7 linked regions of the Homo sapiens genome follow. The protein of the gene in region 6 purifies or fractionates together with the protein of the main gene of each other region. This does not show direct contact. Each region holds a gene or a part of one and is shown on either strand. Other genes may lie near its edges.

Region 1 (4,302 bases), on a different chromosome or scaffold from region 6:
TCAGCCTCTTGAGTAGCTCAGATTACAGGCATGTACCACCACACCTGGCAAATTTCTGTATTTTTAGTAGAGATGGGGTTTCACCAAGTTGGCTAGGCTGGTCTCGAACTCCCAACCTCAGGTGATCCACACGCCTTGGACTCCCAAGGTGCTGGGATTACAGGTGTGAGCCAATGTGCATGGCCTCCAAAAAATTTAAAAACTTAGCTGGGTGTGGATGCGTGTGCCAATAGTTCTAGCTATTCAGAAGGCTGGGGTATAGGATCACATGAGCACAGGACTTTAACGCTGTAGTGAACTATGATTGTGCCACTGAACTCCAGCCTGGGTGACAAAAGCAAGACTATCTCAGGAAAAAAAAAAAAAAAGCTGAATAAATGAATGCATAAGTTTTCCCTCCTGATAGCTTTAAGAATATTGGTTTTAAATGAGTTCAAGAGAAGAATGAAGACAAAAGTCTAGATAGGAATTTACTTTATCTGTAAATGAAACCAGATATATGGCAATGTTACTACTACTAATTTATTGACGATTATTTCCATTCTAATACATGAAAGAAGAAAATGCACATGTACACAAGCATTCAGAAAATACTTATCATTACTCAATGAATGTCTACTAAGTTCAAAGTACTTTATCTTGTAAAATTCCTAAGACCAATCTCCCTGGCTTAGTTCTTTAGTTATTTTCCTGGAATGTGGCTGAGAGTGAATGGTAAATAGAGAATTAACTTGACAATAGATATACTCCAAAGTAATTCAGAGCTCACAATATTGTTACATTTACACAAATCACTGTATGTAAAACAGGCTTTAATAAAATACATATTTCTGTAAGTAAAGCTAGAGAAAAAGTGTGAAGTATGATTTACTAACCACACAAATATCTGCTTGTTTGCAAGAACAGGTTGGGCTAATTAATAACTCCAACTGAGACCGAAGTTTCTCATCATCGCCGAGAACCTGGTTAAATTTCTTCACAAAATCTTGTGCTTTCCCGGGGTCAGGCAAATTCTCTATAAAATTAAAAGAGAATCAATATTAGAGAAGGAAAAAAAAAAAACTATTCTACTAAGCTAAAAACAGGTGCCATCAAAATATTGCGGAGCCACTAAAAGAAAATCAGCCTAGCTGGTTCTTAGAAACAAAATTAAGATAAAGATTATTTTCTTTTACTTAACATTAAATCAGTAGTCCCACTGGGTAAATACTTTGTCTGCATTTACGTTTACTACATGTTTAGTGAGTAAATAAACATACTCACTTGCTATGGTCATCAGTTTTCCAAACATGGCAGAACAGTTAGCCTCTGACTGAAATTTAAAACAGAAACAAAAGAACAACTAGTCATATGTGTTAACAAATTTCCCTAACAAAAATCAATACTCATTACTGTACATTTTTCATGACGTTAAAAAATAAAGTTCATCACAGTCTGCTCAATGGAAAATGGTTTTACCACATATATACGCTAAACTAACAACAAAGAATTACATAGTAGCAACTATTAAGACAAATAGAAGGAAAGGAGATGTTGGGAGGAAGGTACTTAAAAACCCACAAGTATATAACTTTCACAGGAAAGTTACATTGCCAGAAGATTGAAAAAAGATCAATGAAGCAATCAACATATAAACTTATCATATCAGAATTACTATGAAACTACATGCCACAAAAAATTAACTAAAAATATAGAGAAGAAACTTTTTTTTCTGCAATAGAGTTCTGTTAGCTACTTTGTGGCCCGTTACTTAAATACCTTCAGGAAAACCTCCTTTCTAAAACGTACTTCCCTTTCCTGTATCCCATAAAACATTACTTATTAGTTTTCATTTATACTAAATTTGAATAATTTAGTTCAAAAGTTAGAAAACTATGCCCCCATGAGCTACCTGTTTTTGTTAGTAGTTTCGATGGAATATAGTCATGTCCATTCATTTATTTATCGTGTATGACTAATTTTGCAAAGGCAGGGTTGAATATCTGACCACAGACTCTATGCCTTGCAAAATATGTTTTTGCTATCTGTTGATTTATTTTCAAAGTTTGCTAGGCTAGGTGCAGTATCTCACACCTGTAATCCTAGCAATTTGGGAGGCCTAGGCAGGCAGACTGCATGAGCCCAAGATTTTGAGACCAGCCTGGGAAACATGGTGAAAACTCACCTCTACAAAAAACATACAAAACCTAGCTGGGTATGGTGGAGCACACCCGTAGTCCCAGCTATTCAGAAGGCTGAGGTGGGAGGATCACCTCAGCCCAGTGACATCGAGGCTGCAGTGAGCTGTGATCATGCCACTATGCGACAGCCTGGGCAACAGAGTAAGATCCTGTGTATTAAAAAAAAAAAAAAAAAAAAAAAAAAAAGTTTGCCCGCCCCTGTTCCAGCATCCATGTGTCCTTGAGGGGTCTGTTTATATGGTCCCCTGGTTAAGAACACCTATTCTAGTGAACACACGTAAAAATGTAAAGTTTTTTTCCCCAACCTTGCAAAAATTTAATGGCATTTCTTTTTTAGTTTGCCATTGGCATATTTATAGGATTGATATCTGATATTCACTCTACACTGAGAGACCATGAATCATGCAGTGAAAAAGAAATATGATGTTTAATGTAATTTTATCTCAAAATTTAATTCTAATTATTTGAAAATTGATTAACTATAAACTCTTAGTGTCTGAAAACTTTATATAAACTAGAAAACACCATTTCTTTGCTCACACTAGAAAATAAGAGTTTGTTATATTTATTTTAAATGGAAATTTAGCTTGGACAACTACAGAAATTATATTTAACTGACATTTGGAAAATAAAACAACTGAGATACTTTTTCCCTGCTTCATTACGTAGAACTACAGAAAATCTGAACAGTGACTATAATAAACTATGAATTTAAACAAATCATGAACCTACTGTAGGCTGCTTGTGCAAATCCAATAGTTCGCGTACATGGCTCCGAAGCATGTTCTGACACTTCCACATTTCGTTGAGAGCTCTGTAAAGTTATGAATATGAAAACACACATTACATAACAATACTGGAAATTATTCAGCTTTACAACCTTTCTTGTTGCATGCTGTATATACACCATTCTTCTACATCTACCTAAAAGTTTAAATACCGGGAAATATATTTATTAGGATTTAAAACAATTTAGTACAAATGGTAAATATAAGCCTTCTTATGAGAGAAAATATTTGAGAGGTTTAGAAAGATTAATAAGTAATACAGGGATTGAAAGATGTACTAAATACAGGTAGCTAGAAAGTTTTGGTACAAGGAAAGAAAATCTCAAAGTGCAAGGGACATAAAACAAACTGAAAAACATGTATACGCTTGGAGCACAAGGCATGTGTGTGGAGCATAAGGAAGCTGGAGCATTCCACAGACACAGATCAAATCATGAAGGCCTTATTAAAAAGGCTAAGGCATATACATGAAGCACTATAGACTATTTTGAAAAATGAAGTATCAAAAATGATGCAGATTCAAGATGCCAAATTTACATTATTGTGTTTATTCTAAACTTTTCTCTCTCCAGGAACACAGATTTTCTTCTCTCAGAAATCCCATCCATATTTCCAGGTGCCCAGATGACCTCTGAGAATTACTAATCTCTAAACACTCTTTGTCAGATATTTTGAAATGTAAACAAACATCAAAACCTTAAGCAAGGAAAGGGATTAGTAACCATGATACAACACTATCGTAATAGAATTTCTGCCAAAATGACAGTCTTTTTTTCTTTTCTTTCTTTTTTTTTTTTTTTTTTTTGAGACAAGTCTCACTCTGTTGCCCAGGCTGCAGTACAATGGGATAATCTCGGCTCACTGCAACATCTGCCTCCTGGGTTCAAGCAATTCTCCGGCCTCAGCCTCCCTAGTAGCTGGGATTACAGGCGTGCACCACCATGCCCAACTAATATTTTTGTATTTTTAGTAGAGATGGGGTTTCACCATGTTGGCCAGGCTGGTCTCGAACTCCTAACCTCAAATTATCTGCCTGCCCTGGCCTCCCAAAATGCTGGGATTACAGGGGTTAGCCTCCACGTCCGGCCTAAAAATGCAGTCTTAATCTAATAATGCAGGAACACTTGAAGAAGCCACAATGGCAAACAGTCAAATTCCTAACTCAAAATTCTCTCTCTTTTTTAAGACAGAATCTCACTACATTGCCCAGGATGGTCAAGCTTCTAGGCTGAAAAGATCCTTCCATCTTCAGATCAGAATTCTTAATGACATCACTCATTTACTTTGTGTATTTTTGACAAAAATTACATATACGATGGTGTACAACATAATAT
Region 2 (4,059 bases), on a different chromosome or scaffold from region 6:
GCAAGACCTCCAAGATGGCCCGGAGGATGGCAGCAGCTGCCACCGCCCCGGGGTCTGGCTGCTCCAGCCGTGCTGAGCTGATATAACTGGCTCTTCCGGCTCCAGCTTCCATATTCTTGGTGGCCTCGGCTGCAGCTTCGGCACTCTGGGGGATGGGGTGTGGGAGCAGGTTCAAGGGCAGATCACCAGGCCGCCTCCTTCCTGCCATGGGCAGAACGTCTCTGCCGTGCAGCCTGGCCCTGCACGCCCTTGCCCTGGCTCTGCCAGCACCCTCTGCTCTGTCACCAAATGGAAAGTCACTTCTCATCTACTTCCAGCAGGGAAAAGGGTCACCATTCACTGAGGCCCTGTCACATCCCAGGCAGTGTGCGGGGCTCTACATATTTCCTTAGCCACATAACCACCTTCTGAGATAGGTGCTCATCTCCATTGTACAGAGAAGGAAACTGCGGTCCAGGAAGGTTATTAACTTGCTCAGGGTCACATGGAGACAGGAGTCTGCTGGCTAGAAGCCTGTCTCCCCAGGTGGCTGGGCCCAGCCTCACTCACCTTGACTGCTTTGGTCAGGACTTGTAACAGATCAGCTCCTGGGCTCTTCCAGGCTTGGAGCTCCTGCCCCGCTGCCCACAGAGAATCCAGCTGGACAAGGTGAAGGAAAGGGGGCTGAGCACGGGCCCTGCAACCGAGGGTGCTCTTTAGACTTACAGGGCCAAAAGGAGAAAGGTCTGAGGCCACAGCCTGAGTACATACCATAGTCCTGTCCCCTGGAGCAGCCTTGCCATACCTGGCAGGGAAAGAGAGTGAAAGAGGCTCACTATAGGGAACCAAGGGAATCACTCTGAGGGTTGGGCTAGGGCCTGGCAGGGCGCAGATGTCACCAAACACCTCCCCCAGCCCACCCCTGGTCTGATGCACAGGGCTCTGGCTCACTTCTGCATGGCTTCCAGGCCGGCATCCATGGCAGCAGACCAGGCTGGGAGGCTGGTCTTGGCCTTCAGGGGCTGTGCAGCCGCAGTCAGGAACAGGCCATAGAGCTGGGGAAGATGACAACGCTGAGCATGTGGTGCTGGCCTGGACCCCAGCCAGCCCAGCCACCTCCCTGTCAGCCCTTCAGCCCCCAGGCACCCACCGCCCCAGATGAGCCTCCCATCTTCTCCAGGAGCAGGACAGACAACTTGGAGAGCAGCTGGGCAGGGCTGGCAGGGGGTGGGCCCTCCTTCAGCCACTCCTGGATTGCTGCAGGCAGAGAGAGATGGGGAGGAATTCAGAGATCCTCCCTCCATCTGCCAGACTTCCAGCCAGCACCAATGAAGGCTGGAAAAGGCCGACAGGGAAGTGGAATGAAGGCTTCCCAAGATCCCTTTCCACATCCAGTGTGCAGTCTGGAGAGGGGCTGGGCTGCGTAACCGAAAGGGGCCTGGGGAGGTGAGGCCTGCCCCGAAGCCCTCCACTTGACGCTCTGTACTCTGCTCCCTGGCTTGGTTTTTTTCTCCTTAGCCCTTTGTGCTAACATCCTCTGTGTTTTACTGATTTATCTGGTTGACTGTCTTCCACCTAGAACATAAGCCATGAGGGCAGTGATTTCTGTCTGCTCTGTTCACTACTGTATCCACAGCTGAGAGCAGTGCCTGCCCCACGGCAGGCACCAAATACCTTTTTCTCGAATGAATGATGCTGGACAGTTAAGAGCTTTTCACTGGTCTGGGTAAACTGAGAAAAATAAGGACAACAGAATAAGTTCGCCTTGAGTTGTAAGTTATTCACTGTGAAGGATTTCATTTAATTCTAAGATAACAACCTCATACATTTGTGGTGTTAAGAAGGTCCCTGTCGGCCGGGTGTGGTGGCTCATGCCTGTAATCTCAGCACTTTGGGAGGCCAGGGCGAGCGGATGGCTTGAGGTGGGGAGTTAGAGACCAGCCTGGCCAACATGGCGAGACCCCGTCTCCACTAAAAACACAACAATTAGCCAGGCGTGGTGGCGCATGCCTGTTATCTCAGCTAGTCAGGAGGCTGAGGCAGGAAAATCACTTGAACCCGGGGGGCGGAGACTGCAGTGAGCCGAGATCACACCATTGCATACTCCAGCCTAGCGACAGAGTGAGATTCCTTCTTAAAAAAAAAAAAAAAAAAAAAGGAAGGTCCCTGCCTTCAGGGAAACAAGTGGAAGGGGGGCTAAGGTTTTGTGAATGACCTCACTTGGCAAAGTCCCTGGCACCAACCTCTGGCCGCACGGCTGTGGGTGGTGCCACAGTCGCCGTCACCAGCAGCCCGGTCCAGGGCATTCAGGTGTTCCTCCAGGCCCAGGAGAGTGCTGCACACCCGTTCCAGCACCAGCGCCATCCGCTTCGAGGCTGAGCCTAGAAAGGGAGGATGCTGAAGAACAGGCCCACCAGGCCCTTCTCACAACCACACTTGACTATGGTGGGAGGTGTGGGTGCCAGGGCCCCTACCCGCCCCACCGTATACTCCTGCATCCTTTGGGAAGCCTGTCCCTTCCCCAAAGGCAGGGGTTGGTACCTCCTGCAGCAGTGGAATCAGGGGCCTCCTGGGGCTCGGCAGGGGCTACCCGGCTCCGCTTCCGCCCAGTAATGGAGACTGCAGCCACGTTAGGCCAGGCTGCTGCAGTGGTTTCAGCATCTAAGGGCAGCAAGATAACTCTCTTAGACACGGCTGTCCAGCCAGGGATTCAGCAGGGCTTGGACCCTCCCATCCTGACCCTGGTGGCCTGGCTTTCTCAGCAGCCCTGGAGGAAGGGAGTCCACCTCGACAAGCATGGACTGAGTGCCTACTGTATACAGGGGTATGGAGAGAGGGTCCCTGGGAAAGGGTCAGGCCTCTCTGAGGAGGATCCTAATACCAACTCCTTCTAGTCCAGTGAGAGCTGGAGAAGGCTGGAGAAGCCCAGGAAGAGCCTTCTTCACAGGCTCCAGAGCCCTGATTGTCACGGTCAGCCCTGACGGGGTCTCCAAGTCTCCCTGGCTCCTTCCAGTTACAAGGAGCCCTGGCTTGGGTGACCCCAGGTTCCAAGTCTCACCTATCAGTTTCAGGAGAGGCTCATCCACCAGCAGGAGGGTGAGAGAAATGCCAGGCATCTCCAGTGCTGACATGAAGGTGCCCACCAGGGCACGGGCAATCTTCACCCCGCGGCCCTCTGCAATACCAGAGTGTGGCAGTCCAAAAGGGAAAAATGGGCATCAGGGAAAGAAAACAACAGAAAAGCAAGGACCTTGGAAGCTGGGGCTCTGAGGTCGGGAGGGAGATGTCCTGATTTCCTCCTGGCAGGCATCCCTCAATAACCCCACAAATGACCACGTTCCCTGGAGGTGTCCCCTACGTCGGGGAAGATGAGTAATTACAGGTCTCATTTACTCAGTTCGTGCCAGGTGCTGGGCGCTGTGTTGAGTGTCTTACATATGTTTAATCTCACTTAATCCTCAAAACAACGGTATAAAGCAGGTACCATTATTATTACCCCCAATTTGCAGACAAGAAAACAAACAGAGGCTCAAGGTATCCGGCAATTAGGTGGCAGAGAGACGATTTAACTCAGGCTTATCTGACGCACAGTCCGTGTTCTCTGCCATCACAAGACCCTCCCTCAGCCCTTTCCAAAGGGCTGTAGGATCCCCTTCCCAGTGCATGGCTCACCCAGGGAGCGGACGGTAGCGTCGGCTATGATGCCCAGTTCCAGGAATGACAGGCCACCCAGGTTGTTGACCATCATCACAACTGAGGAGCCTGCGGGTAGACATGACACCCCAGGTGAGACCCTCTGGGCGTCTCCTCCCCAGAGGTTTAGGAGGGGTTGGGAGACGCGGGCGAGAGGCTACCCACCGGGCTGCACAGGCACATGGGACGCGTTGGTGGTGTTTGTCATGTGGTCGAGCATGAGTTTCACAATCTCATCGGCGGTTGCCATCTGTCAGAGGGAGCCAGGAATGAGCTGCATCTGGGGGGCCTTGGCCTTAGGGCGGCCTGTGCCAGAGGGACCACCTACCTTTATCCGGCGCACACCAGCTTCCCCGTGGATCCCTGCGGATAGATGTGGTCACTGCT
Region 3 (4,302 bases), on a different chromosome or scaffold from region 6:
GAAAACCTATGTTTAATACTGGACTTAGTAGGAACATATTCATACTTTATTTTTTGAAAGCATTATATATGACAGTTGTAATTATGACAGGCTGATATTAACTGTTTTCTTATCTAACCTCTTAGAAGCTGCAGTTCATCATCTGCTGTGATAGTTCCACAACCAGAGGATCCAGACAGAGCCAATACTTCAGAAAGACAAAAAACGGGGCAGGTGCCTAAGAAAGACAATTCTCGAGGAGTGAAGCGCAGTGCTAGTCCAGACTACAACAGGACCAATTCTCCTAGCTCTGCAAAAAAACCAAAAGCACTTCAGCATACTGAATCTCCCTCAGAAACAAATAAGCCACATAGTAAGTCAAAGAAGAGACATTTAGACCAGGAGCAACAACTGAAATCTGCACAATCACCATCAACAAGCAAGGCTCATACCAGGAAGAGTGGGGCCACTGGCGGTTCACGGAGTCAGAAAAGAAAAAGGACAGAGAGTTCTTGTGTAAAGAGTGGCTCCGGGTCTGAATCAACTGGTGCAGAAGAGAGATCTGCGAAACCTACCAAGCTGGCTTCAAAATCAGCCACCTCAGCCAAAGCTGGGTGTAGCACCATCACTGATTCTTCTTCTGCTGCCTCTACTTCCTCCTCGTCTTCTGCTGTAGCCTCGGCCTCCTCCACTGTACCACCAGGTGCCAGAGTGAAACAAGGAAAAGATCAGAACAAGGCCAGGCGTTCCCGTTCAGCGTCCAGTCCCAGCCCCAGAAGAAGTAGCAGGGAAAAGGAACAGAGTAAAACTGGTGGCTCTTCAAAATTTGATTGGGCTGCTCGTTTCAGCCCTAAAGTTAGCCTTCCTAAAACAAAACTGTCTCTTCCAGGGTCTTCTAAGTCAGAGACATCAAAACCTGGACCTTCTGGATTACAGGCCAAATTAGCAAGTAAGTTTACAAAAAGGTATTTTTCTTTAATTAAAGAAAGTTTCTCTTGGTTTGTCAAAAGCAATTATGCTTTAAAGTTAAGGGTTTTTTCCCCCCAGTCTTAGATAATCTTAGATGTATTACTGTCTGTGTAATTAAGTACATAACAGCATGTAGTAAGTGCTACTACATTTAGTTTTGTTGAGACAGGTAAGGAATACTACCTTCCTATTATTACGAAACCATCACATTTTAGTGTCTGTGTCTTTATTGGTCCTCGCGGCATCTCCTACTTCACTGATTTCCTAATATCAGGATGGGACATAAAGTTGGATTTTCTTCTATACCACATACAAAATTATCATTTAGTTAGGAGTTCTTTTTAGTTATGAGTTGCCATGATCAGAGATCAAATATATATATGTTTTTTTAGATGGAGTCTCACTCTGTCGCCTAGGCTGGAGTGCAGTGGCGCAGTCTCGGCTCACTGCAACCTCCGCCTCCTGGGCTTAAGCAATCCTCTTGCCTTGGCCTCCAGAGTAACTGGGATTACAAGTGTGCACACCATGCCTGGGTAATTTTTGTGTTTTTAGTAGAGATGGGGTTTCACTGTGTTGGCCACGTTGGTCTCAAACTTCTGACCTCAAGTGATCTGCTCACCTCGGCCTCCCAAAGTGTGGGGATTACAGGTGTGAGCTACCATGCCTGGCCAAATATATTTTTTTATATGAGATATTCTTGATGTGTAGATACAGTGAATTAAGTTATTACTATAAATATACCTCAATGTAAATTAAACTTTTTCATATGTAATATCTCACAGTCTTTTAAGGAGTTTTGTCTAAAGATGAATACTACTTATGTTTCACTACTCTTATATACACTACTCTGTGTCCTAAGTGAGTAAGAATATTGCTCTCTAAAAGTTTACAGTGGAGTAGAAAGAATTTGTGTTTTGAGAATACATTCAAGCAAAGAAACAGAAAGTAGATGGAAGAAACATAGCGTTATGTGCATTCCTTCATGAGTCAGTTTTGGAGATATCCAGGAACTCTTCTCCCTCTCTCTTTACCAAAAGACTTCTTCAGGGAACCAGCTGCTCATCTGGGGAATGCTAGTGTCTTTCTTTTCTTTCCTCCCTTCTTTTTTTTTTTTGAGACAGAGTCTCACTCTGTTGCCCAGGATGGAGTAGTGGTGTGAGTGGTACGATCTTGGCTCACTGCAACCTCCACCTCCTGGGTTCAAGCAATTCTCCTGTCTCAGCCTCTCCTGAGTAGCTGAGATTACAAGTGTGCGCCATCACACCCAGCTAATTTTTGTATTTTTAGTAGAGAGGGAGTTTCACCATGTTGGTCAGGCTGGTCTTGAACTGGGACAAGTGATCCACCTGTCCCAGCCTCCCAAAGTGTTGGGATTATAAGTGTGAGCCACTGTGCCCAGGCTTCTTTCCTTATTTCTATTTCAGAAACCTATAAAGGACAAATAGGATAATAAAGCACTTATCTCTACAATTTTTAAAAGCATTTTAATTTTATAATACCTAATTAGGAAGCTTGCTTTTAAGCATCTTTTCTTCTCTGATGGATTTTAGATCTACATTTGGGTAGGGCTATAATGTTTTCTTGGTTTAAAAAGATTGTATATAGTGTCTACTAGCATTCTTGTCAAAGTATAGCTCATATTGAATCAGCCTAACTTAAAATTGAATCAGAACTATTAGCTCTGTTTAATTTAACACTGCAGTCTAAAACTACTTTTGGTTGATTCACATATTACCTGAAATGACAATACTATTAATAGTAGGTACTATATAAAAAATTTTATGTTTAACCTGTATGATAGGTTATTGTGAAGTAACATATTTTACTTTTAGATTGAACTTTGTTCTGTTTTGGTATTTTAAATATGCAGAACATCTGTATAAAATGTTTTAAGTTTAAAGGATTAAGATAGGCTAGATCAGTATCTTGAAGTGAGAAGGAAAAAAAGGTCCAAGTTAAAAGGACAACCAACTATTTGTCCTTCCAATGCTTTATTGATAATTGGAGTTACATATGTCAGCTTTTATGCTGCCTTTCCTCCCTGTGTTTTGTGTCTGTCAGTCCTGCTATGTAATATTCACAGCCAGTGAGCCAGGTTGAGTTTACAGCAAGCTGCTTAGGATTCACTTCCCCTTCTGCCTTCCAGTCTGCCTCACTTGAAGAACTCATCTCTTATGTGTAGGAGGGTTCTAGGGCCAGGCAATAGCAGATTGTACTTGAGTGTCATGGCCTTGGTCCTTTGTAGAGATCAGCTTTCTTTTCTTTATATAGTCTGTTAACTTGATTTTTAAAAGAAAACCCAACTCTACCAGTGGCTAATCAGTGGGATTTTCTCCTTGGTGTTTCAATCAGGAAACACCAAGAGTTTTGGCAGTGTCATTTTGCTGCTGGTTTGATAAAACCAATCCAGATAATTCCATTAAGCCTGCTCAGCACATAGTCACAAACTAATTTAGTATTTTAAAACTCATTTCACCATTATTTCATTCACTTGCACAGTATCTGTGTTCTGTTGTCACTATTAAATCACTTTTCCGTTTTCACTGCCACTATCCCAGTTCTGATCTCTCATCGTAGCCTAAGCTGTTGAAACAAGAGAATGGAACCAGCGTTTGTGTAGCATAAAATAAGTACCAGGTATTTTACATATGCAGTTACATATTCTTTTAAAAAAAATGGTGCTTTAGGATACACTTTTTTTTTTTTTTTTCTGAGACAGAGTCTTGCTGTATTACCCAGGCTGGAGTGTGTGTAGTGGCGCAGTTGGCTCACCGCAACCTCTACCTCCCAGGTTCGGGCAATTCTCGTGCCTCAGCCTCCCAAGTAGCTGGGATTACAGGCGCATGCCACCATGCTTGGCTAATTTTTGTATTTAAGAGACAGGGTTTCGCCATATTGACCAGGCTGGTCTCGAACTCCCGACTTCAGGTGATCTGCCCGCCTCAGCCTTCCAAAGTGCTGGGATTACAGGCCTGAGCCACCATGCCCAGCCTAGGATAGTTATCAAGGAAATGTATTCCAAGGAGATGAAATAACTTCTCTGAGTAATATACCTCATACTTGGCAGAGTTAGGATTTGAAGATGGGGGTAGTAGGTGTGACCTTGAATGAAGCATTTTCTTTTCTCTTTTTTTTTTTTTTTTTTTTTAAACCCTTGTTAGTTTCTGTGTTTTACTGTTGTAACATAATTGGGCCATTTGGAGATACTAAGACTCTAGAGAAAATGAAATGTTATTTGGTCCTTCATTGATAGTATTGATTAAATTTAGAGATGAATACTATGTGGACCCAAGGATTCATACCATATCATTCACCATATATTTGCTGTTTTTCAAATAAATGAAAACATTTCAA
Region 4 (3,043 bases), on a different chromosome or scaffold from region 6:
GTAACATAAAGGTGAGTCAGTACAAGAGGTTGGAATGTGCTAAAGACTGATTGGAAAGAGAAAAAACAAAAACTCCACATTCTTTGAAATAAAGCTTCACTTTATTTCACTTGGGCTACTGCATGGAGATACTGCATATCTCAACACTCTGCCGCCTCCCCATGCTCCTGTATGGTTCTTTCTAAACTGTTATGGTCAATGAGATTATCAAACTCATTGGACTCAGGCCATTAGAAAGCTTTAAAGCATTCTATTTTGAGTAAAGTGTATGAGTTTAATGCATGAAATTTTTTGATGACATTAGTTTGGCTCCTTAGAAGCTTCTCCCCTCTCCCTCAGTACTCTTGTGTGTGGTGGAGGTGACGTTTCCAGTAAGTGAGCTAGTGCAGATGCTCCTTGACTTTATGGTGGGATTATGTCCCAACAAACCCATTATAAGTTAAAAATATTGTTAAAGTTGAAAAACATACTTTCAACTTAATATTTTCAACTTACTATGAGTTTATTGAGACTAACCTCAGGATAAGCCAAGGAGCGTGCTGAATGCGTATTGCTTTCACACTGTCATAAAGTCAAAAAGTCTTGTCAAACCATCGTAAGTAGGGGACTGTCTGTACCACACTACTTTTACATAGCCTTAGGACCTAGCTCAGCATGAGGAACACATTTAACTGAATTAACTCAAATAGTTAATTGAATTAGAGATGGGCTACATATGGTTAATATGAAGCCACAAGAGGATGTGAAGGAAAATATGGAAGGAGGACAGTAAATGAATCGTGGGAGTGGTGTTATCATTTCCCACTTAGATAAGCTCTTAGGAAAGAGGCAGTGGGTGGGAAGGTTGGGCTTTAGTGAGATCACTTGGGCCAAGGGAGCAGAAGGGCCATGTTTTTGCTTTTGGTCTTTTCGTAATATATTTTTAACTCCTTTTGTTTTGCACTAGGTTTGGAGATTGACAGGCCATGGCCTAATTCATTCATTTAAAAGTGAACATGCTAAGCAGTCCATATTTCGAAACATTGGGGCTGGAGTCATGCAGATTGACATCATCCAGGGCAATCGGCTCTTCTCCTGTGGTGCAGATGGCACGCTGAAAACCAGGGTTTTGCCCAATGCTTTTAACATCCCTAACAGAATTCTTGACATTCTATAAAGATTGGGGTTTTATTTTTATATACATTTCAGTTAAAAGGCACACTACAGTCATCACTAGGCAATTCTGCTTTCTAAGCAGTTGTATTGAAAACAGAGAATCTCTGTGTAGAATTTGAATATGACCCAAGCTGAGTATTATCTAAACAGGTTGGTGGAATGAATGCGCATGTACCTTATTATGCTGACATACTAAAAAAAATAAAACCTAGTATTGTATGAAGGATAGCTATTCTTTACAGCATTTAGCAAACCTGATTCAGAAAACATTTGAGATTAGCAAATTAGTAACTTGAAATAATGAAAAGGACGTTTATACCAAATTAAGGAAGAAAATGTTGCTGATTTGGGTTTTTCTTCCTGTTCTTACCACTGACTGAAGCATGCCTGCAGTCTCCTCCTCTGTTGAATGAAGGATAATCATAAGGTGTTTGTTAGGAGCGCTAGACCACCTGGAAAACTTTCTTAGCTGTGGAGCAGTGCGCAGTGACCAGTTCTCTGCTGTGAGAGGCCGTTTCCATTCTTTCCTGCTGAATATTTTTCCTGTTAGTGTTTATACTGAGCTAGTACTGTAACTTGCAAATGAGTGCAAATTTAAATGCAATGTTTTACTCACAATTTGCACATTCACATTTTTTGGACTGCTAGTTTTTCTATTTAAATATTTGCCTTCATGTTAGGAATGTACTATGTGAACATGACATATTTGTAGTTAACCAAACACACCTTCTTAGTCCAGTTTAGTACTTTTTCTTTTCGTGTATTCAAGGTTAAACACCCAAACATTTAAGGATATGTTGAAACTACACCAATAGAGCATTTCATATCATAATTAAAATGAATGTTAGGCTTCTTGTGGCCAGTTAATAGTTGATGAGATTGGTGACATTATTTATTGCCACAGCCTATTGTATAAACTATGCAGAGTTAAATATTTGCTTGTAAAATATTAGCCAATGTTGTCATTATTTTGATGTATTTCCTTGGTTATGACCAAAAATATGTTGAGATACTGAAACTAATGTCTGTGTGTTTAAATGTTTACCAGCAAATTGTCTTATCATGTTAATGAGAATGTTCAATGCCTGTGTGGTAAATAGTAAATACAATGGCATAAAAGTAACTTTCTCTGAAGATGTGATGTTCAGGCTGTGAAATATATATGTAAAAGAAAAATAAATGTTATTTGTTAGAGTTTTTAGTTTGATACTGTTTTTGACCATTGAGATTTTTAATTTGATAAAATGTTTAACTGTTAGAGAATTTGCAAGCTATTTGGCAGTCTATTCATTCATAAGTAAGTATTTACTGAATACCTTCTATACCAAAAGCCATTCTAGGAAATGGGATACAGTGGAGAGCCAGACAGAGAAAGCACACAATGTTGAGATTTAGCGGGGCAAGAGCTAACCTCACTATACCTTCTCCAGACAGATTTGAAGTTTATTGAATGAAGTACTAACCTCGTACCCAAAACTCAAATCTGAGTCTTGGCTATTTGCTTGCTCCTAAGTAAGTAAGGGAAGTCAGAATATGCCCACTGATAAGAAGAGCCAGGAAAATAAGCTTGTGAGTGACATCTCAATGCCTAAAGCAAAACTGATTCAAAGGAGCTTTCAGAAAAAAGGGAAGAGAACTTTCTCTGTCAGGTAAAAGCAGTAAGAGACTCTAGATTCACCTTCTAGCTTGAAACAACTAAAAGAAAGAAGACGACAAAATATATAAACAATGGTTCTCAAGACATTAAGCATCAGGTAGGGAGGGACAGTGATTCCTGAGAGGTGAGCATTTTAATTGTCCCAACTTACCACCTCAAGAAAGTTTCCAGGCCACAGGCAGGGAGAGAACCCAGGCAGAGCCTAATGGTTTCTCCAAGTTGCCAAGATGA
Region 5 (3,953 bases), on a different chromosome or scaffold from region 6:
GCCTTGCACTGTGGGGCTCCAGGGGTTCCTTTCAGGCCCAGGAACCAAGGGGAGAATTGAGATCTCAGAGCTGTTTGGAGTGGGGTGAGTAGGCCTCCAGGGAGAACTGAGGCATTGGTGTGGCTAGTAATGTGGGCCAGCCCTACAGTCTCATGCCAGCACAGGGCTCAGAGATCAGGCGCACTCACCCTCAGCAATGGCGCCCAGCACCAGGATGCCCGACTCCTTGACCACCCACTCGGGGTGGAAGAGGAGGCCTTTGAGTAGTGGGAGTAGGTGGGGCAGCAGTTCCTCCCGGAAGACATTGGCGAGGACGTCCAGTGCAGCCGCTGAGCACTTCCCTGGGGAAGGGGGAACAATGGGGAGGCTCAGGGCGGCCCCTCAGGCAGGTGGCCGACCCTCCTTGACTGCACTCCCAGGATCAGAGATCATGCTCAGAATCTTCACGATCAGCTTCTTTTTTTTTGTTTTGTTTTTTTGAGACGGAGTCTCACTTTTTCCGCCCAGGCCGGAGTGCAGTGGCGCTATCTCGGCTCACTGCAAGCTCCGCCTCCTGGGTTCATGCCGTTTTCCTGCCTCAGCCTCCCGAGTAGCTGGGACTACAGGCGCCCGACACCACGCCCGACTAATTTTTTGTATTTTTAGTAGAGACGGGGTTTCACTGTGTTAGCCAGGATGGTGTTGATCTCCTGACCTCGTGATCCGCCCGCCTCAGCCTTCCAAAGTGCTGGGATTACAGGCGTAAGCCACTGCGCCCGGCCACGATCAGCTTCTAATCAGCTTCTGCCTCAGCTTCTAGTCACCTCCCAAGAGGGAGTCCAGGGCTTGCCACCCCACCACCACCCCCAGGCAGGGGCACACACTCAAATTCCAGTCGGACAGAGCATCATCATCATCGTCATCCTCCGCGTCCTCGGAGCCATCAGGCCGCTCAGCCTCGTGGGGCAGTGTGACCGTGCGTGACTTGTGGAAGCGTGGCTTGATGTCCTGCTCACTGTCGGGGACAGCCTCATCCTCCTCCACATCCCCCTGGGGGACAGGCAGACTGTTAAGTACTTTGGGGACCACAGCCGCGACACCCACGCCCATGCCCACCCATGCTGGGTGGGCCCTGCCTGACCTTGAGCAGGATGATGTCAATTTCCGAGTACTTCATCCCATTCACCAAGATGGGGATCAACCTGCACAGAGAGGGACTGTTTATGGGGATGCAGGGGCCGTGGCAAAAGTTGGGGGGAGGCACAGCTTGGGGAGGAGGCAAACAGGTGCCAACAGAGTGACCAGCCCCCCAATCAGCCACAGAGCAGACCCTGCAGAGCATGATGGTACTGCTAGGTGCAAATTGATCCATTTCCCTCTGGGGAATTATCGGAATCTAGTCTCTGCCGCTATGATTAGGATATAAATGATACCACTCCTGCCTCCAGAGAAAGGTTTTTTTTTTTTTTTCTTAAGAAGCAGGGTCTAACCCTGTGGGCGGCAAGCCACCCAGGCACCGAGGCAAGAGACAGAGGACACGAGCTGTTCCAGTATAATAAAATATAAAACAAGAATAGTTATACCAGATATAGATCTTAGATATGATTATATATGAATATCATTAATCATTAGTTTGTAGCAATTACTTTTTATTCCAATATTATGATAATCCTCGCTCTATAATCATAGCCTAGGAAAAACCAGGCCATACAGAGATAGGAGCTGAGGGGACATAGTGAGGTGTGACCAGAAGACAAGAGTGCGAGCCTTCTGTTATGCCCGGACAGGGCCACCAGAGGGCTCCTTGGTCTAGCGGTGACGCCAGCATCTGGGAAGACGCCCGTTACCAGGCGGATCATGGTCCAGCGGTAGCAAAAGGTGTCAAGGAACAACACCCGCTACTTAGCAGACCAGGAAAGTGGGGGAGTCTCCCTTTCCCCGGGGGAGTTTAGAGAAGACTCTGCTCCTCCACCTCTTGTGGAGGGCCTGACATCAGTCAGGTTTGCCCGCAGTTATCCGGAGGCCTAACCGTCTCCCTGAGATGCTGTGCTTCAGTGGTCACACTCCTAGTCTGCCTTCATGTTCCATCCTGTACACCTGGCTCTGCCTTCCAGATAGCAGTAGTAAATTAGTGAAAATACTAATAGTCCCTGATATGCAGAAATAATGGCATACGCTGTCTTTCTCTTTGTCTACTCTCCCTCTCTGCCTCGGCTGCCAGGCAGGGAAGGGCCCCCTGTCCAGTGGACACGTGACCCATGTGACCTTACCTATCATTGGAGGTGACTCACATTCTTTACCCTGCCCCTTCTGCCTTGTATGCAATAAATAACAGCGCAGCCAGACATTTGGGGTCACTACCGGTCTCCGCGCATTGGTGGTAGTGGTCCCCCGGGCCCAGCTGCCTTTTCTATTATCTCTTTGTCTTGTGTCTTTATTTCTACACTCTCTCATCGCCGCACACAGGAAGAGACCCACCGACCCTGTGGGGCTGGTCCCTACGTAACCCTATCACCCAGGCTGGAGTGCACTGGTGCGATCACAGCTCACCACAGCCTCATGCTCCTGGGCTCATGCAATCCTCCTGCCTCAGCCTCCCAAAGTGCTAGGATTATAGGCGTGAGCCATGGCACTCAGCCTGCAGGAAAGCTCTTGACCCAGGCCTGGCCACTCAGTGGATTATAGACCCCTGAATACACTGAAAATCTTGGTACAGTGCCTGGTCCCTAGCACAACATTAAGGCAGGGACATGCGGTCCTATTCCTGGCCACTTTCCTGAGATAGGGCAGAGACTAGCCAGAGTAGGGGAGCAAACAGACTAGGCAGCCAGCCCCTCAGCTGCAGCCCAGAGTTGTAAGTGACAGAGCCTTCATCACCTGCTCATCTAGGTCTCATCACTCCCCAGGAGCCGTCTGCCCAGCCCTAGACTGTTATCAATAATTTGGGGCCGGGCACAGGGGCTCACACCTGTCATTATAGCACTTTGGGAGACCAATGCAGGAGGATTGCCTGAGCCCATAAGTTTGAGACCAATTGGGACAATATAGTGAGACCTCACCTCTAATGAATGATAAATAAATAAATAAATAAATAAATAAATAAATAAACATACAATATGCTGGGCGTGGTGACTCACGCCTGTAATCCTAGCACTTTGGGAGGCCAAAGTGGGCAGAACACAAGGTCAGGAAGCTGAGGCAAGAGAATCGCTTGAACCCGAGGGGCGGAGGTTGCAGTGAGCCGAGATTGTGCCACTGCCCTCCAGCCTGGGCAGCAGAGTGAGACTCCGTCTCAAAAACAGAAATTTCAAAATAATAATAATAATGATCTGGGGGCTGGGTACAGTGGCTCGCACCTGTAATCTCAACACTTTAGGAGACCAAGACAGGAGGACTGCTTGAGGCCAGGGATCCGAGACCAGCCAGAGCAACTTAGCAAGACCTCATCTCTACTAAAACTTAGAAAAGATTAGCTAGGTGTGGTGGGATGTGCCTGTAATCCCAGCTACTTGGGAGGCTGAGGTAGGAGGATTGCTTCAGCTGGGAGGTCAAGGCTGCAGTGAGCCATGATTTTGACACTCCACTCCAGCGTGGATGACAGAGCAAAACCTTGTCTCAAAATAAAAAAGAAAAAAATGATTTGGAGAGAGGCAAGCAATCCAAGTTTGTCAAGGAGGGTCAGTTTTAGGACTTTTGTTGGAAACACTGGTCGAAAATTTCTTTACTCTGAAGTTCCTAAGCTGGAAGGGCACAGAAGGCTACAGCACTACCCAGAGGGAAGGTTGTGCCTAAGAATGAAGCCAACACAAGGGAAGCAGATCTGAGACCACAAAGATGCCTTTCACATCCTTTGAGCTCCTGGATACAGCCATACCCCTGAAGCCTTTGTTGATTTTTCATTTCTTTTTTTTTTTTTTTTGAGACGGAGTTTTGCTCTGTCACCCAGGCTGGAGTGCAGTGGCACGACCTTGGCT
Region 6 (4,302 bases):
TTTGGGTTGGAGCAATTCTACAATACGACTTCACTAACATCACACAGGTACATAAATCATTAATTTAGCTCTACCGATATGCTCACTTTATTCCTAACTCTCACACTTTAGGATGTCCAATACACTTATTACCTGATTCAATTTCCAAAAGCTGCTAAGAAGTTAAACATTCATTTTCAAGCTTCCAAATGTTCCCATGTCAAAATGGTTGCATCAAAGGGGCCAGGTCAGAATTTCCTACATATATTCTGGGGTAGATTCATGCAGTGGGTCACAGCAAGTCCTTGCTACCACTACAGTAACCACAGAAGTATTATCAAATACTGCATTAATACTTACCAGCTGAGTTACACCCAGCATTACTTATTATCCTAACATTCCTCTAACATTTGCATACAGATTTTTGCAGTTTATTATAATATTTTTATACATAAAGAGCACATAAAATGCAGATGTGCCCTCTCTCTAGGGAATACCCAATCAACACTGCGTATTACTATACATATTTGCTCAGGCCAGTCAAGGAAAGCCTGATGAGCCTTGAGCAAACAATGGCCCCACTCTGAACAGATAAAGAGTACTCTGTCCTCTAGAATCAATACACCTTCAAATACAGGTAGGCAGACAGTAACCCTTCAAGTGGGCACACATACTCAAGTTCCTCTCTTTGAAGACCTATATCCAGTATCTGAAATTTATTGGTGGCATTTACCCACTAGGGAAAACAATTCTAATTATACATGGAAGTTAATCAATCATATTAAATACATAAAATAGTATACCACTTTATATTTCTTATTTCTTTTCCAGTATGATTAAAGCACACTGAAGGTAGAAAGAATCTTCATCAAGTGCTTTGCAACTCTGAGCAGGGAGCATGAAATATTTATCACTACACTATAAAGGTACAACAATAATACAACAATTAAAATGATAATAAGATACATAATAAAATGTGACTTTCAGTACTAAGAACAGAGGATAGGGAAAAAAAAAGAATGCCTAATTTCTAGTTAGTTGTCTAGGGCTCCTTGAGTGATGTGAAATTTTGACATTTCAGAACAATAATAGAAAAAAAACAAAGAACAAATGAGAAAGAGAAGGCAATGTAAAACAAATGTTAAAGGCAAAAGTAAATCAAATCAGCATGTAAAGAAAATATCCACAAAAGTATACCAATCATCCAGAAGGTACCTTTGTTCAGAAGAGGAAGGAAGTCAGGTGCTTTTTCCCGAAAAACCCTTTGAGCATCCTCAGCTTTCATGGACACTTCCTTTGTCTGAACTAGGAAAAAGCCTTTACCAACCATCTGTGAAAATAAAATTTCATTGAGATTTTAAAATGAACTTCTGAGACTAAAACAATGATTTCCTATTCTAGTATTTCTCTGTATAAAATGCAACAACAGCACACTGATTTTTGTTTTAATTATAAGTCTAATTCAGGGTGTTTGCTATAATAAGTTCTCACTATATGAGATTCTTTCTTACAGATGGGTGGTTCTGGTTTAGTACTGCAGTTAAGGTTAAGGGTCAAATAAATGTGAATTATCTCTCAAGTTTAAAACATGATTAAAATTTTTCTACAACCAGATGGAAGTTTTAGTTTGGTGATACTGCAAATGTCCAATAAGAAGAGAATGGTTAAGTAAATTATGGTACAGTCACATGATGAAATGCCACAGTTCATTACATTTATCACAGTTCATTAAATACAACAAAGATGTTATAATAAAATGAGGAAAAGCTTATGTAATAATGTTAATTTTACTTTTATTTGTTTATTTTTCTTTCTTTTTTTTTTTTTTTGAGATAGGGTGTCACTCTGTTGCCCTGGCTGGAATGTAGTGGTGCAATCATAGCTCACTGCAGCCTCAAACGCCTGGGTTCAAACGATTCTCCCACCTCAGCCTCCCAGGCAGCTAGCTGGGACTACAAGCTCGTGCCACCATGCCTGGCTAATTTTTAAAATTTTTTTTGTAGAAACAGGTTCTTGCCATGTTGCCAGGCTGATCTTGAACTCCTGGGCTCAAGCCATCCTCCTGCCTCAGCCACCCAAGATGCTGGAATTATAAGCATGAGCCACTGTACCTGGCCAATAATGTTAATTTTAAAAGGCATGATACAAATTTATATAGTATAGCACAATAATGGTAGATCACACTTATGGAGCACTTACCATGTGGCAGGCAGTTTTATGTACTTTACATATATATATTTAACCCTCTCACGAAGTAGGTATCATTACCCTCATTGTACAGATATGAAAACTAAGGCGCACAGTGATTAAGGAACTTGCCCAAGGACATTCAACAATTAAGTGACAGAGCTGTGATTCAAACCTAGTTAATCTAATTACAGACTAAATAAATTTAAAAATGATTCCTAAAAAGATTATTCAAGGTATGGTACAATTATGTATTGATTTTAAACTTATTTTACTCTTTCTTATTTCTATAATTCTCCACAATGAGGGCATATTAATTTTTAAAGTAATTATGAAAGTAGTTTTTAAAAATGCAGTCAGCCCAGCATCATGGCTCACACATGCATCCCAAGCACTCTGAGAGGCCAAGGTGGGAGGACTGCTTGAGACCAGGAGTTTGAGACCAGCCTGGGCAACACAGCAAGACCCCATCTTTATAAAAAAAAATTTAAAATTAGCCAGGTGTGGTGGTGTGTGCCTGTAGTCCTAGCTACTCAGGAGGCTGAGGTGGGAGGATCCCTTAAGCCCAGGAGTTAGAGGCTACACTGAGCTATGATCTCACCACTGCACTCCAGCCTGGACAATAGAGCAAAACCTTGTCTTTAAAAAAAAAAAAATGTAGTCATATTCCAACCACTTAATTTTTAGCAAAGCTTGTTAGGTTTTTAATAATTAAAAGTAACATATATTCTCAACACAGAACATTTGAAAAATAAAAAATAGAAATGAAGAAATATCAACCAGGGTGCTGCAACTAAAAGATGCTACTGCCATACAGGTATACCCTCCCAGTTTTCTTTTTCTCCCATTACAGAAATAATATATGCTCACTGTTAAATCCATAGAACTACAAAAAAAGAAAACCCTGCTGTTAATCAACTGCCTAAGAATAAGCATGCCTGTTAACATTTAAGTATCTATAACTTTCCAGACTTACCTACTTAAAAAAATCAGTTACTTACCTAATATTCTACAAATTTTCACTTACTTAATTGTGACATTTTCTACATAAAGTCAGTTTTAATGGCTGATAGTATTTCATCCTATGGCTACATTATTCCATACCATTCCATCGAATTTTATTAAACTCAAATCCTATTTCAGAACCCTCATTCAATGCTGCCTCCAAAAAAAGAAACATACATTTAAAAATTGTAGAGAATTACATGGACATCACTGCCAGATGACTGTAAAATAAAAATATCAGAAACAATTCTACCTCTCTTATTTTCTAGAGTGCTTATCATCTCTGATTTTATAAACACAAACTGATGAGATTATGATGATTACTTCAAAATAATGTTACCTAAATAATAAACTATATTTTAATATTTCACTGCAGATATTTGAAGAGACTCCTTTTCATGAAAATTCTACTTTTAAAGACTTGAAAATAGTGGTAACTACCCAACTTCAATTTCAGATGATGAAGTACTCTCAAACTATTTTACTCTATTTTATCCTGTACATATCTGTGATGTAGGTAAGAGAAGTCGAGGAAAGAAAAACAATTTTTATTGTTTGTTTGTTTTTGAGACGGAGTCTTGCCCTCTCGCCCAGGCTGGAGTGCAGTGGTGGGATCTCAGCTCACTGCAACCTCCGCCTCGTGGGTTCAGGCAATTCCCTGCCACAGCCTCCCGAGTAGCTGGGATTACAAGCACCCACCACCACGCCTGGCTAATTTTTGTATTTTTAGTACAGACGGGGTTTCACCATCTTGGCCAGGCTGGTCTTGAACTCCTGACCTCGTGATCCACCCGCCTCGGCCTCCCAAAGTGCTGGGATTACAGGCGTGAGCCACTGCGCCCGGCTGGAATCTGATTTTTAGGTGAGAAAACCAAAGTCTAGTAACTTCTCTTGGCTCCCTATGGAATGTCTTTTTGCTTTACCCAGCCTTTTTGGACTTCCTAACCTCTCTCAAATTGTATACTTCCTATTGCGAAAAAAAAAAAATCATTATTTAATGCATTAAAACAATGTGAAACAAAATTCTGTAATCCTCCTGGGGTTTAACAAATATAGAGTTAGCAATCATAGTTTCAGTCTAAGCTGTCCTAAGACATTTGTGTTATGACATGAGAAAGACTCAAGTTTTAT
Region 7 (4,302 bases), on a different chromosome or scaffold from region 6:
GGGGCAGATTTACCTTCCTTATTATTCTTTTGCTAGGCTGTTAAAAGGAATTTGGAAGGCCAGGCGTGCTGGCTCACGCCTGTAATCCCAGCACTTTGGGAGGCCGAGGCAGGCGGATCACAATGTGAGGAGATTGAGACCATCCTGGCTAACACGGTGAAACCCTGTCGCTACTAAAAATATAAAAAAAAAAACATTAGCTGGGCGTGGTGGCGGGCGCCTGTAGTCCCAGCTACTCGGGAGGCTGAGGCAGGAGAGTGGCGTGAACCCGGGAGGCGGAGCTTGCAATGAGCCAAGATAGCGCCACTGCACTCCAGCCTGGGCGACAGAGCGAGACTCCATCTCAAAAAAAAAAAAAAAAAGGAATTTGGAATAAATATGTCTCCAAGATAACCTGGTAAACAGAAAGGGCTGCAAAAAATCTGAATAAAAGCAAGTCAATTAACAGGATACATGTAAAACACACATTTTATATTCCTACAAGTCTTTTTTTTTATAATAGCATGTTATTACTTTTCTAAAAAGGACAAAATAACTTATTTTAATGACATTTAAACCCAATTATTAACAGAAAAGGGATAAGAACTGTGGTTCCTTGGCCTCCTTTCCCCTTGGTTTAGTTCTCCTAAATTAAGAACTTCTACTTATAGCTCCCTGAACACACAAGGCTGTTTTAAGCCTCTGCACCCTCATGTTCCTTCAGCCTTGAATGCAACTTTTTGTAACGCAACTTCGTGGAAAGAATTCCTATTCATCCTATAAAACCCTATTCAGGTGTTCCCATCTGATAAAGCCCCTCAATAATGATGACTTTCTCTCACTCCTGAAAAGAATTAATCTCTTTTCTTGGATATTTAGTAAGAACTTAGATTTACCGAGCTCTTACTATGTGCCAGGCACTATGCTAAGCATTTTATCCACATTATCTTATTGAATCGTCAACAGTACCTACAAGATAAGCACTGTTATAATCTTCTTTTACAGATAAGAAAATAGAGGCTCAGATTCTGACTAGGAAGTGGCAGATCCAGGATTCAGTCCCAGATCTGTTTGACTTCAGAGCCAGAGTCTTGAACCACTCACTGCCCTGTCGTCTCCCCTGTCCTACTTCCATACTGGCATAGCACACACCTCGGTCCCTGCAACATCTCCAGTTTCATGAAAACGGACAATATTTCATTATCCTTGGATCCTGCCTGACGCAATACCTGGCTCTCAACATGTTTGCTGATCTGAATTAAAGAGTTGCGGTAATCCTTTTTTTTTTCTTTTTTTTTTGAGATGGAGTCCCACTCTGTTGCCCAGGCTGGAGTGCAGTGGCACGATCTCAGCTCACTGCAAGCTCCGCCTCCAGGACTCATGCCATTCTCCTGCCTCAGCCTCCTGAGTAGCTGGGACTACAGGCGTCTGCCACCACGCTGGGCTAATTTTTTGTATTTTTAGTAGAGGCGGAGTTTCACCGTGTTAGCCAGGATGGTCTCGATCTCCTGACCTCGTGATCCGCCCACAGCCTCCCAAAGTGCTGGAATTACAGGCATGAGCCACCACACCCGGCTGGGTAAGAGTTGCAGTAATCCTAACATGACAAATGAGAACTGACCATAACAGAAATTCATTCTTCCATATGTTATTCCCAGGCCTCATAACCTCTCCTTCCTCTGAAGACATGTAGCATTCAGTGTAGCACTGTCAGAATGTCTCACTCTGTCCCCCAGTCTGGAGTGCAGTGGCAGGATCTTGGCTCACTGCAGCCTCCACCTCCCAGGTTCAAGCAATTCTCCTGGCTCAGCCTCCAGAGTAGCTGGAACTACAGGCGTGTGCCACCACACCTGGCTAATTTTTGTATTTTTAGTAGAGACGGGGTTTTACCATGTTGGCCAGGCTGGTCTCAAACTCCTGACCTCAAGTGATCCGCTCACCTCTGCCTCACAAAGCGCTGGGATTACAGGCATCAGCCACCATGCCCAGCCTGTTTTTGCCTTTTTTTTTTTTTTAAAGAAACAAAGTGGTCTCACTATGTTGCCCAGGCTGGTCTTGAACTCCTGGGCTCAAGCAATCCTCTTGCCTCGGCCTTCCAAAGTGCTGGGATTATAGGCATGAGCCACTGCTCCTGGCCCGATATGCTACTCCTTTTAAAAACTGGAGGCATCTCAAACAATTTACCACCAAAGGACCATGTGGCCATACTGACTAAAGCGCACTACACTTTACGCTTACGTCTTGTAAGCCAAGGTGTCTAACAAAGAGTATATAACCACCATATTAATTCTTTACACCATAATCAATAAGGGCTGGGCCAGCCCAGCAATGCCATCCTCCTGGATCTCACTGAGGCTGCTCCAGAACACCAGAAGTTCTTCAGGATTCGGGGATGTCCCTCAAGTACTCTTTCAGTGGTTTTTATAAATGACTCAAAAGTTATGGTGAAATTTTTAAGTGCCAAAGACATAAAATATGAGTGGTGGTTTGTATCCAATCAAAAATCCTCAAAAAACACTTCTGCACTTAAGCACACTATACTTTTTTCACCCAAAGTACCAAATCAAACTAGTCAGGATACCTACCTTTGTACAATGTCAGACTCCAGTTAATAACTCCCCTAGGGCAGAGGGCATATGCACTGATTTACTTTGTACAAATTAACCAGCATCAGGCAATCAGGCCTGTGCCTAACACATAGTAAGCACTCTATGATTAAACATCAGTGCTTCGGCTCCAAAGTTTTATTTATTTATTTATTTATTTATTTTTTTTTTTTTTGAGACGGAGTCTCGCTCTGTCGCCCAGGCTGGAGTGCAGTGGTGCGATATCGGCTCACTGCAAGCTCCGCCTCCCGAGTTCACGCTCTTCTCCTGCCTCAGCCTCCCGAGTAGCTGGGACTACAGACGCCCGCCACAACGCCCGGCTACTTTTTTTTGTATTTTTAGTAGAGATGGGGTTTCACCGTGTTAGCCAGGATGGTCTCGATCTCCTGGCCTCGTGATCCGCGCGTCTGGGCCTCCCAAAGTGCTGGGATTACAGGCGTGAGCCACCGCGCCCGGCGCCCCGAAAGTTTTAAAAGCTTCCCCTACAAAAGAACAGAACTGAAATTCCTTGGTCCTGTATTCAATGTCTTTTGTAAGTAATCACTTCTCCCCTACTTACCCTCCTAGTCTACCGGGCTACCAGGAATTTTTTTTTTTTTTGGAGACAGGGTCTCACTCTGTCACCCAGGCTGGAGTGCGGTGGCGGGATCACGGCTCACTGCAGCCTTAACCCCCGGGGCTTGGGTGATCCTCCCACCTTAGTCTCACCAGTAGCTGGGACTACAGGTCCACGCCACCAGGCCTGGCTAATTTTTTTTATTTTTAGGGGAGAGGGAGTTTTACCACGTTGCCCAAGCTGGTCTCAAACTCCTGGGCTCAAGCAATCCTCCTGCCTCAGCCTCCCAAAGTGCTGGGATTACAGGCATAAACCACCGCAAATTCTTTACACCTATCAAATTCCACCCATTATTTGGGACCCAGTTGAAATCCCTCTTTGGCAAAAAGACTTTCTAGACAACTCCAGGCCTCATAACCTCTCCTTTCTCTGAAGATCTGTAGCATTCAGCCTAGCACTGTCCAATAGAACGTTCTATGATAACAGAAAAGTTCTACATCTGTACTGTATGTTCTTTTATGTAGAACAGCTACCTTGTTAGCACAAGTGTAAAGTCTCACCATCTCTTTGATGACAACATGTTACATTGGATGGTTAAAACATTTATCAGCTCCCCCAGTAGACTGCAATTTCTGTGAACAAGATACAACTTATTCTTCATAGCAACTCTGACAAAGTTGCAAAAGGTATATATATGTTGGCCAGGCAAGGTGGTTCACGCCTGTAATCCCAGCACTTTGGGAGGCTGAGGTGGGCAGATCTCTTGAGGTCAGGAGTTTGAGACCAGCCTGGTCAATATAGTGAAACCTTATCTCTACTAAAAATACAAAAATTAGCCGGGCGTAGTGGCGGGCACCTGTAATCCCAGCTACTCAGGAGGCTGAGGTGCGAGAATCACTTGAACCCGGGAGGAGGAGGTTGCAGTGAGCCACGATCATGCCACTGCACTCCAGCCTGGGTGATAGAGTGCAACTCCAACTCAAAAAAAAAAAAAAAAAAGTATATATTTGTTGATTTGCACATCACCTAAGAAAACCATAAGCTAAGAAGGTTTGGACTCAGGCGTCTGGAAAGTTGGTCACCACCTCTACCCCACCTCATATCTGAATGTCAAGAGACACGTAGAGGCAGAGAAGTTAAAGCAACTTTCTAGAGACAGAA

The links.
Region 1: the proteins of RP2 (region 6) and PDS5A purify together in Homo sapiens (affinity purification with mass spectrometry; 3 studies listed by BioGRID and IntAct, with this or other methods). This does not show direct contact.
Region 2: the proteins of RP2 (region 6) and TKFC purify together in Homo sapiens (affinity purification with mass spectrometry; 3 studies listed by BioGRID and IntAct, with this or other methods). This does not show direct contact.
Region 3: the proteins of RP2 (region 6) and TRIP12 purify together in Homo sapiens (affinity purification with mass spectrometry; 3 studies listed by BioGRID and IntAct, with this or other methods). This does not show direct contact.
Region 4: the proteins of RP2 (region 6) and DMXL2 purify together in Homo sapiens (affinity purification with mass spectrometry; 4 studies listed by BioGRID and IntAct, with this or other methods). This does not show direct contact.
Region 5: the proteins of RP2 (region 6) and TNPO2 purify together in Homo sapiens (affinity purification with mass spectrometry; 3 studies listed by BioGRID and IntAct, with this or other methods). This does not show direct contact.
Region 7: the proteins of RP2 (region 6) and STAT3 purify together in Homo sapiens (affinity purification with mass spectrometry; 3 studies listed by BioGRID and IntAct, with this or other methods). This does not show direct contact.

The regions. Positions count from the first base shown.
Region 1 is NC_000004.12:39,897,514-39,901,815, forward strand, and holds part of PDS5A (sister chromatid cohesion protein PDS5 homolog A), read right to left. Parts: intron 2,995-4,302; coding exon 2,913-2,994; intron 1,313-2,912; coding exon 1,264-1,312; intron 1,016-1,263; coding exon 876-1,015; coding exon of another isoform or gene 843-875; exon of another isoform or gene 501-842; intron 1-500. UniProt on the Homo sapiens protein: Probable regulator of sister chromatid cohesion in mitosis which may stabilize cohesin complex association with chromatin. May couple sister chromatid cohesion during mitosis to DNA replication.
Region 2 is NC_000011.10:61,342,437-61,346,495, reverse strand, and holds part of TKFC (triokinase/FMN cyclase), read right to left. Parts: intron 4,036-4,059; coding exon 4,001-4,035; intron 3,923-4,000; coding exon 3,838-3,922; intron 3,742-3,837; coding exon 3,652-3,741; intron 3,155-3,651; coding exon 3,038-3,154; intron 2,641-3,037; coding exon 2,521-2,640; intron 2,361-2,520; coding exon 2,223-2,360; intron 1,237-2,222; coding exon 1,130-1,236; intron 1,035-1,129; coding exon 931-1,034; intron 785-930; coding exon 751-784; intron 640-750; coding exon 550-639; intron 202-549; coding exon of another isoform or gene 172-201; exon of another isoform or gene 146-171; coding exon 1-145.
Region 3 is NC_000002.12:229,855,398-229,859,699, reverse strand, and holds part of TRIP12 (E3 ubiquitin-protein ligase TRIP12), read left to right. Parts: intron 1-125; coding exon 126-928; intron 929-4,302. UniProt on the Homo sapiens protein: E3 ubiquitin-protein ligase involved in ubiquitin fusion degradation (UFD) pathway and regulation of DNA repair.
Region 4 is NC_000015.10:51,447,097-51,450,139, reverse strand, and holds the end of DMXL2 (dmX-like protein 2), read left to right. Parts: coding exon 1-11; intron 12-946; coding exon 947-1,156; 3' UTR 1,157-2,349; downstream 2,350-3,043. UniProt on the Homo sapiens protein: May serve as a scaffold protein for MADD and RAB3GA on synaptic vesicles. Plays a role in the brain as a key controller of neuronal and endocrine homeostatic processes.
Region 5 is NC_000019.10:12,710,433-12,714,385, forward strand, and holds part of TNPO2 (transportin-2), read right to left. Parts: intron 1,182-3,953; coding exon 1,121-1,181; intron 1,030-1,120; coding exon 864-1,029; intron 342-863; coding exon 189-341; intron 1-188. UniProt on the Homo sapiens protein: Probably functions in nuclear protein import as nuclear transport receptor. Serves as receptor for nuclear localization signals (NLS) in cargo substrates.
Region 6 is NC_000023.11:46,856,995-46,861,296, reverse strand, and holds part of RP2 (protein XRP2), read right to left. Parts: intron 1,310-4,302; coding exon 1,195-1,309; intron 1-1,194. UniProt on the Homo sapiens protein: Acts as a GTPase-activating protein (GAP) involved in trafficking between the Golgi and the ciliary membrane.
Region 7 is NC_000017.11:42,381,387-42,385,688, forward strand, and holds part of STAT3 (signal transducer and activator of transcription 3), read right to left. Parts: intron 1-4,302. UniProt on the Homo sapiens protein: Signal transducer and transcription activator that mediates cellular responses to interleukins, KITLG/SCF, LEP and other growth factors. Once activated, recruits coactivators, such as NCOA1 or MED1, to the promoter region of the target gene.